Linked DNA regions of Homo sapiens. The protein of the gene in region 1 interacts with the protein of each later gene in a pairwise test. Each region holds a gene or a part of one and is shown on either strand. Other genes may lie near its edges. The genes, in order: CAMTA2 and ZNF483.

What was found.
Region 2: the proteins of CAMTA2 (region 1) and ZNF483 interact in a two-hybrid assay, tested with the Homo sapiens proteins (one large-scale study listed by BioGRID).

The regions. Positions count from the first base shown.
Region 1 is NC_000017.11:4,980,906-4,984,723, forward strand, and holds part of CAMTA2 (calmodulin-binding transcription activator 2), read right to left. Parts: intron 2,139-3,818; coding exon 2,071-2,138; intron 1,988-2,070; coding exon 1,852-1,987; intron 1,271-1,851; coding exon of another isoform or gene 1,256-1,270; coding exon 1,184-1,255; intron 927-1,183; coding exon 773-926; intron 455-772; coding exon 320-454; intron 1-319. UniProt on the Homo sapiens protein: Transcription activator. May act as tumor suppressor.
Region 2 is NC_000009.12:111,534,948-111,538,765, reverse strand, and holds part of ZNF483 (zinc finger protein 483), read right to left. Parts: intron 1-3,818. UniProt on the Homo sapiens protein: May be involved in transcriptional regulation.

The DNA.
Region 1 (3,818 bases):
GGACAAAAGAACAGAACCAAGGGGGTGCCAACTAGGAGGAAGGCTAAGGCTGGGTGTCACTGGTGGTGCTGAGGGGACAGGAATTGCTGAAGGTAGAAGACAGGAAGGGCAGAGGCTGCCATGACAGCTGAGTGCAAGGCTGATTCCGAGCCAGTGTGCACCCAGATGGGAACGTCTGTTCATCTGGCCCATCTTTCTGGGACATGCAAAAGACTTGCAAATCAGCATGCAAATCCCATCAAGATGGATATCCCCCTGGCTTGCGTAAGAGCAGTGTGGCTAGGTGGGAAGACAGCCAAAAGGTCAGGGAGTAACTTACCAAGCCCCCCACTGCAGAGACAGGCGTGGGTTCGGGGAGCAGGCTTGGTTGGGTGGGTGTCCAAAATCTGCTGCACCAGGTGTTCTACAGAGAACTCTTCTGTTCCATTCCCGCAGCTCCACTTGATGCCATGAACTAGAGAAGTTAGGGGGAAGTGCTGTGGGATCCCCACGAAACAGGCCCCAGAGTACCTTGATGGCTCCTCCAAGCACCTGACATGCTTCAAGACTTCTGGCCAGGTGAACAGAGGCCAGCAGCCTCAAGACTGCTCAGATATGTTGCTTTAGTCCTTTCTCCGTATTCTAATACCTGAGAACACACCGGGAATCCTAGCACCCTCCCAGCTTGGAGGGAGATGATCAGCCCTCAGGCTTTGGGTCCAGAACCATGGCCCCTCTGGGAGCCCTGTTTCTACTCTCCCCTTGGAGCTCTATCCCCACCCTGCTGCCTTACACATGGGCTTCAGCTGTCCCAACAACTCCTCCCGGGACCACTTCAGCCACTCTCGACGGTCGCTGCTGATGGAACAAAAGATGGGGCTGCAGCCCTTTCCACAGTCCTCCAGGGCTGGGACGTTCAGGTAGTGCACAAGGACGATGTCAGGGTTCTGAGAGTATAAGGGGACACACAGAGCCATGGGGTCCTGAGGTCCAGGGGCTTGGCTTCCTAATCCTCACTTTCTTCCTGGGCACCCTCCTAACCTCGCCCCCAATTTCTGACTCTCTCCATCCCCAAGCCCCTTTCTCTTCTTCCCAGGCTCCTTTCCTCACTCAGAACTCAGCCATCCTTTCACTTCCTTCTTTCAGACCCGTGTCCCTCAAAGAGTCAGGAAGAGGGTGGCTCCCTGGGCTCTTCCGTCCTTACCTGGAGCAGCCAGTAGCAGCGCCGATGGAATGTGGGGACGATGGAAGAGTGAACGTAGCAGCCATAGAGACACTGCCAGGAGACAGGCTGGGGTGGGGGGAGGGCTAGTCTGCTCCCCAACTCTTCCTCTGTTCAGTCCCTTTGCAGGAATCCCAATCTTTCCACCAGTTCCTCTTCAACCCTTCCCCCACCCTCGCCCCCACCTATTCCCCACCCCTTTTGAATCCCAGCCACCCTGAGTCATAGATGAGCAGTGGGGCTGGGGCCTTATAGTGAGGACCAGATTTGAGATACGGGACTATCTAGAAACCAGAGGGCAGAGCAAGAATGCATCTGAGATGAGGGGCAATGATTTGGGGAAGAGAAACCTGTGCTGAGAGCATCATTGCTGGGATCCCTGAGGGAAACACAAGAGCAGTGAGGGGCCTGGGCATCAGTGTTCTGGAAGGGAGGCATGGCCTACGGCCTGGATAGTTGAGTCACGGAGGGAAATGGGAAGTGGAGAGTGGCCAAAGCAATGTCAGCCGACCCAAAGTGAGTGAGAAGGGAAGAGTAACTGGGAGGGGACTGAGGTGGACAATGCCACCAAGCCCAGGTCGGGCTAGAGCCCAGCTAAGGGTGGAGGAGGGCAGGCTCGGGAAGATGAGCTGAATATCTGACTCTCTTACCTCCATGCCCTGGACCTTCAGCTTCATGTGGTCCTCTCGGGTGGTCTTCCCATCCTTCCGCTTCTTCCAGAGGTAACCATCCTTCCGATATTTCACCTTCTTGCGATTGTAGAGGATGATGGAGCCATTCTGAGGCCTGGGAAGGGAAGGGTTGCCCTGGAGTTCTGTGAACAGAACCCAGGACCCCTGCCACTCCCCCATGTTCTCAAACTTTCTCACCTTGTCTTTGGGGCACAAGACAGCCACTCATCATGCTTCTCAAAGGTGATCAGGTAGGATGCAATCTCCTGTAGGAGAGGAGGCACTCAGCTGGGCATCTCCTTCACAGAGAGTCTCAGCCTGGCCTCTTGGTCATCCTGTCAGTGTCTCACTCTCTGCTGAGTTCTGGCAGCTAGTGGAGGATGCTTCTAGGTATCTGGACCCAGCAAGACCCACTGCCCTCCTAAGAACCCTTCTTTTGTCCTAAGACAAAAGTCTAACATTTTTTTGTGAATTATTTTACTCTCCAAAAATCTCATTCCTGTGCCCCTTTTTTTTTCTTTTGAGATGGAGTTTCACTCTTGTTGCCCAGGCTGGAGTGCAATGGCGCGATCTCAGCTCACTGCAACCTCTGCCTCCCGGGTTCAAGCAATTCTCCTGCCTCAGCCTCCCGGGTAGCTGGGATTACAGGCATGCGCCACCATGCCCGGGTAATTTTGTATTTTTTTTAGTAGAGACAGGATTTCACCATGTTGGTAAGGCTGGTCTCGAACTCCTGACCTCAGGTGATCCACCCGCCTTGGCCTCCCAAAGTGCTGGGATTACAGGCGTGAGCCACCGTGCCCAGACTTTTTTTTTTTTCTTTTGAGGCAGAATCTTACTCTGTCACCCAGGCTGGAGTGCAATGGCATGATCTCAGCTCACTGCAACCTCCGCCCCCCAGGATCAAGCAATTCTCTTACCTCAGCCTCCAGAGTAGCTGCGATTACAGGCACTTGCCACCGTGCCCAGCTAATTTTTGTATTTTTAGTAGAAACGGGGTTTCACCATGTTGGCCATGCTGGTCTTGAACTCCTGACCTCTGGTGATCCGCCTACCTCAGCCTCTCAAAGTGCTGGGATTACAGGCATGAGCCACCACTCCTGGCCTCTGTGCCCCTTCCTGACTCAAAAAATTTCAGTGGTTTGACACTGCCAGGAATTTCAGATTATTTATTTATTTATTTATTTTTTTGAGACAGAGTCTCGCTCTGTCACCCAGGCTGGAGTGCAGTGGCGCCATCTCGGCTCACTGCAAGCTCTTCCTCCTGGGTTCATGCCATTCTCCTGCCTCAGCCTCCTGAGTAGCTGGGACTACAGGCGCCCACGACCACGCCCGGCTAATTTTTTGTATTTTTAGTAGAGACGGGGTTTCACTGTGTTAGCTAGGATGGTCTTGATCTCCCGACCTCGTGATCCACCCGCCTCAGCCTCCCAAAGTGCTGGGATTACAGGCGTGAGCCACTGTGCCTGGCAGGAGTTTCAGATTCTTTAGCCTGACTCCAAGGTTCTTCCCAACAAGGGATCAAACTTTCACTGTTCCCACTATTTACCCATATTGCTCCTACAATTCCTGCCAGATGGATCCATTGATTCCTTCCTGAACATGCTTTGAATAGTTACCTCCTGCATGTTAGTGCCCTACAAGGCAGGTACCATGTGCACACCTCTCCATATCTGGAAATCATAGCCATTCTATAAACCAAACCCCTTTTCAGATGCTCCATGAAGCCCTGCTGACCACACTGGACCTTCCTAAACGCTCTATAGCACTTACAACAATCACACATACACACATACACGCATCGTTTTACTGACAGTCCTCTTCTGACATCAAATTGATAAATATCAACAACCAACTACATACAAGGCAGTAAGTATGCAGAATACAGAAAATGTGTAACACAAGGACTGTGCCTCCTCCAGAAAGAGCCAGTATCAGTGGTGGTT
Region 2 (3,818 bases), on another chromosome or scaffold:
TGGTGTGTCGTAAATAACTTTTAAAACAAGCTGTGTATCAACATGAGGCATTTTCTTTTATGTAAGATAATTGGGGAAGGGACATATATTTATACCAGTGCTGCTAGAACTACACAAAACACTTTCAGAATCCATTTGTTAAATTCCTCTCCAAAATGCTACTTAAATATGATAAAACAACTGTTGTCCTTTATTTATGTAATCACAGTTGACCCTTGAACAACACAGATTTGAACTGCAAGTGTCCACTTACAGGTGGTTTTTTTTTTTTTCTAAGAGATGGGGTCTTGTTCTGTCATCCAGGCTGGAGTACAGTGGCATGATTATAGCTCACTGCAACCTCTAACCCCTGGGCTCAAGCAATCCTCTCACCACGGCACACACCACTGTGCCTGGCTGATGTTTAAATTTTTTGTAGAAACAGGGTCTCACTATGCTGCCCAGGCTGGTCTCAAACTCCTGGCTTCAAGTGGTCTTCCTGCTTTGACCTCCCAAAGTGTTGAGATTACAGGTGGGAGCCGCCATGCCCAGCCCGTGGATTTTTTTCAATAAACATGTTAGAAAAATTTTTGGAGATTTGTGACAATTTGAAAAAACTTGCAGACAAACTGTGTAGCCTAGACATGTCAAAAAAAAAAACAACCCCAAAAATGTATGTCATGTATTTTTAAGATATATAGATACTAGTCTATTTTGTCATTTACTACTATAAAATGTACACAAATTATCAAGTTAAAATTTATCAAAACGTACACACACACTTACAGGCCGTACTTGGTGTCATTCACAGTCAAGAGAAATGTAAACAAATGTAAAGATACAGTATTAAATAATAACTGGGCCAGGCGCACTGGCTCACCCCCATAATCCCACCACTTTGGGAGGCCAAGGCAAACAGTTTGTTTGAGCCCAGGAGTTGGAGACCAGCCTGAACAACATGACAAAACTCTCTCTCTACAAAAAATACAAAAATTAGCTGAACATGGTGGCATGTGCCTGTAATACCAGCTACTCAAGAGGCTGAGGTGAGAGGATCGCTTCAGCCCAGGAGGTGGAGGCTGTAGTGAGCCGTGATCATGCCACTGCACCCTAGCCTGAATGACAGAGCAAGACCCTGTCACAAAATAATAATAATAATAACTGCATAAAACTGTAGTACATACTATACACTGTAATAATTTCATAGGCACCTCTTGTTGGTATTGCAATGAGCTCAAATGTCTGCTCTAAGTATCCACTTAAAATGCCAGGTAGGCCAGGCGCTGTGGCTCACGCCTGTAAACCCAGCACTTTAGGAAGCCAAGGCAGGAAGATCACTTGAGGTCAGGAGCTCGAGATCAACATGGTTAAACCCCGTCTCTACTGAAAATACAAAATTTAGCTGGGCATGGTGGTGCATGCCTGTAATCACAGCTACTTGGTGGGCTGAGGCAGCAGAATCACTTGAACCCAGGAGGTGGAGGCTGCAGTGAGCTGACATCACGCCATTGCACTCCAGCCTGCGTGACAGAGTGAGACTCTGTCTCCAAAAAAAAAAAAGCCACGTAATGCTAATCATCTCCACATAAGCAGTTTATGTCTCCAGGAAATTGCCTATCACCGTAAAAATGGATCTCTTGCGGTTCCCTCCTATTTTTCACTGTGTTTAGTGCAATACTGTAAATCTTGAATAACATCATGGGACCCATACAAAGTGCTGCTAGTAATGCTGGAAGTGCTCCCAACAAGCACAGAATAGTCATGATACTTCAAGAAAAAGCTGAACTGCTTGATATGTACCATAGACTGAGGTCTGCAGCTGCAATTGTCTGCCATTTCAGACAAACAACATAAATTTAGTGATCGATACACACAGTACAGTACCGTAAATGTTATTTTCTTTCTTGTCTTAATAGCATTTTTCTCTAGCTTACTAGAATACAGTATAAAAAACACATAACATATGTAATTATGTTTATGTTATCAATAAGGCTTCAGGTCAACAGTAGGCTATTAGTAGTTATGTTTTTGGAGAGTTAACGGTTATACATGGATTTTCAACTGTACGGGGGCGGGGGGGGTGCGGTCAGTGGCCCCTAATCCTGTTGTTCAAGGGTCAATTGTATACTGGAAACAGCCAATAAGTTGACTACAATAAATGTTTGAGAAGATGGAATAGAGCAAGATGGATCATTGCTTCTTTCTTTTAAGATAAACCAAGGTATTGATACATGTAATAACTTACTTTTGTTTTTATTTTTTGAGATGGAGTCTCGCTCTGTCGCCCAGGCTGGAGTGCTGTGGCGCCATCTCGGCTCAGTGCAAGCTCCACTTCCCAGGTTCAAGCGATTCTCCTGCCTCAGCCTCCAGAGTAGCTGGGATTACAGGCGCCCACCACCAAGCCTGGTTAATTTTTTTTTTTTGTATTTTTAGTAGAGACGGGGTTTCACCGTGTTAGTCAGGATGGTCTTGATCTCCTGACCTCATGATCTGCCTGCCTCAGCCTCCCAAAGTGCTGGGATTACAGGTGTGAGCCACCACGCTTGGCCTATTTTTATTTTTTTAAATGTAAATTTAATATATATATATAAATTGTGGCCGGGCACAGTGGCTCATGCCTGTAATCCCAGTACTTTGAGAGGCCAAGGCGGGTGGATCACTTGAGGTCAGGAGTGATCCACCTCCTTTCCATGGGGAAACGCCATCTCTACTAATAAAAATACAAAAAAAATTAGCTGGGCGTGGTGGCGCGTGCCTATAGTCCCAGCTAGTTGGGAGGCTGAGGCAGGAGAGAATTGCTTGAACCCAGGAGGCAGAGGTTGCAGTGAGCCAAGATCACGGCACTGCACTCCAGCCTGGGTAACTCTGTCTCAAAAAAAAAAAAAAGAATAATAATATATATAAATTGTAAGATATAGGTAAGTATAAAAAAACCTAATCCTGGCCGGGCACGGTGGCTCATGCCTGTCATCCTAGCACTTCGGGAAGCCGAGGTAGGAAGATCACGAGGTCAGGAGATCAAGACCATCCTGGCCAATATGGTGAAACCCCGCCTCTACTAAAAATACAAAAAAAATTAGCTTGGCGTGGTGGCACATGCTTGTAGTCCCAGCTACTTGGGAGGCCGAGGCAAGAGAATCACTTGAACCTGGGAGGCAGAGGTTGCAGTGAGCTGAGACTGCACCACTGCACTCCAGCCTGGTGACAGAGCAAGACTCCATCTCAAGAAAACAAAACAAAACCTAATTCTTCAAAGATAACCAGTGTTAACATGAATGTTTTCCAGATATTAAAAATCCATATACTCTATGTATTCAGGCATGTATTTATATGTACATTTTTTCCCTTTAACAAAAATGGAATTATTATGCATGCTGTCCACTGGATGAATTCCTACTCATCCTTCAAGATTCAACTCAAATGCGAATTAAAACCTTGCTCCTGTATATTCCCACAGCTCCTTATACATGTGCTTGATATAGTATGCATCAGTGTTAACACTCTTGTTTCGATACGTCCTCTAGTGTCCATAAAAATGCACCACTCACACCTCCCCCTGCGGGGATATTACCTGACAACCCCTGCTGCTGCTCTATGAATCCAACACTGCATTCACACAAATTCCCACGAGTTGCTCCCAGTCAATGATGGAGTACAGGATACTTACACAGGCCCATTTCTTTGAGACACAGGACTCCTCTGATAGGTAACTATGGCAAGGACTCCTGTTTGGCCCTGCCTAAACTTTTTTGGAACTGCACTGCAGCCGGGCGTGGTGGCTCATACCTGTAATCCCAGCACTTTGGGAGGCCGAGGCAGGCCGATCACGAGGTCAGGAG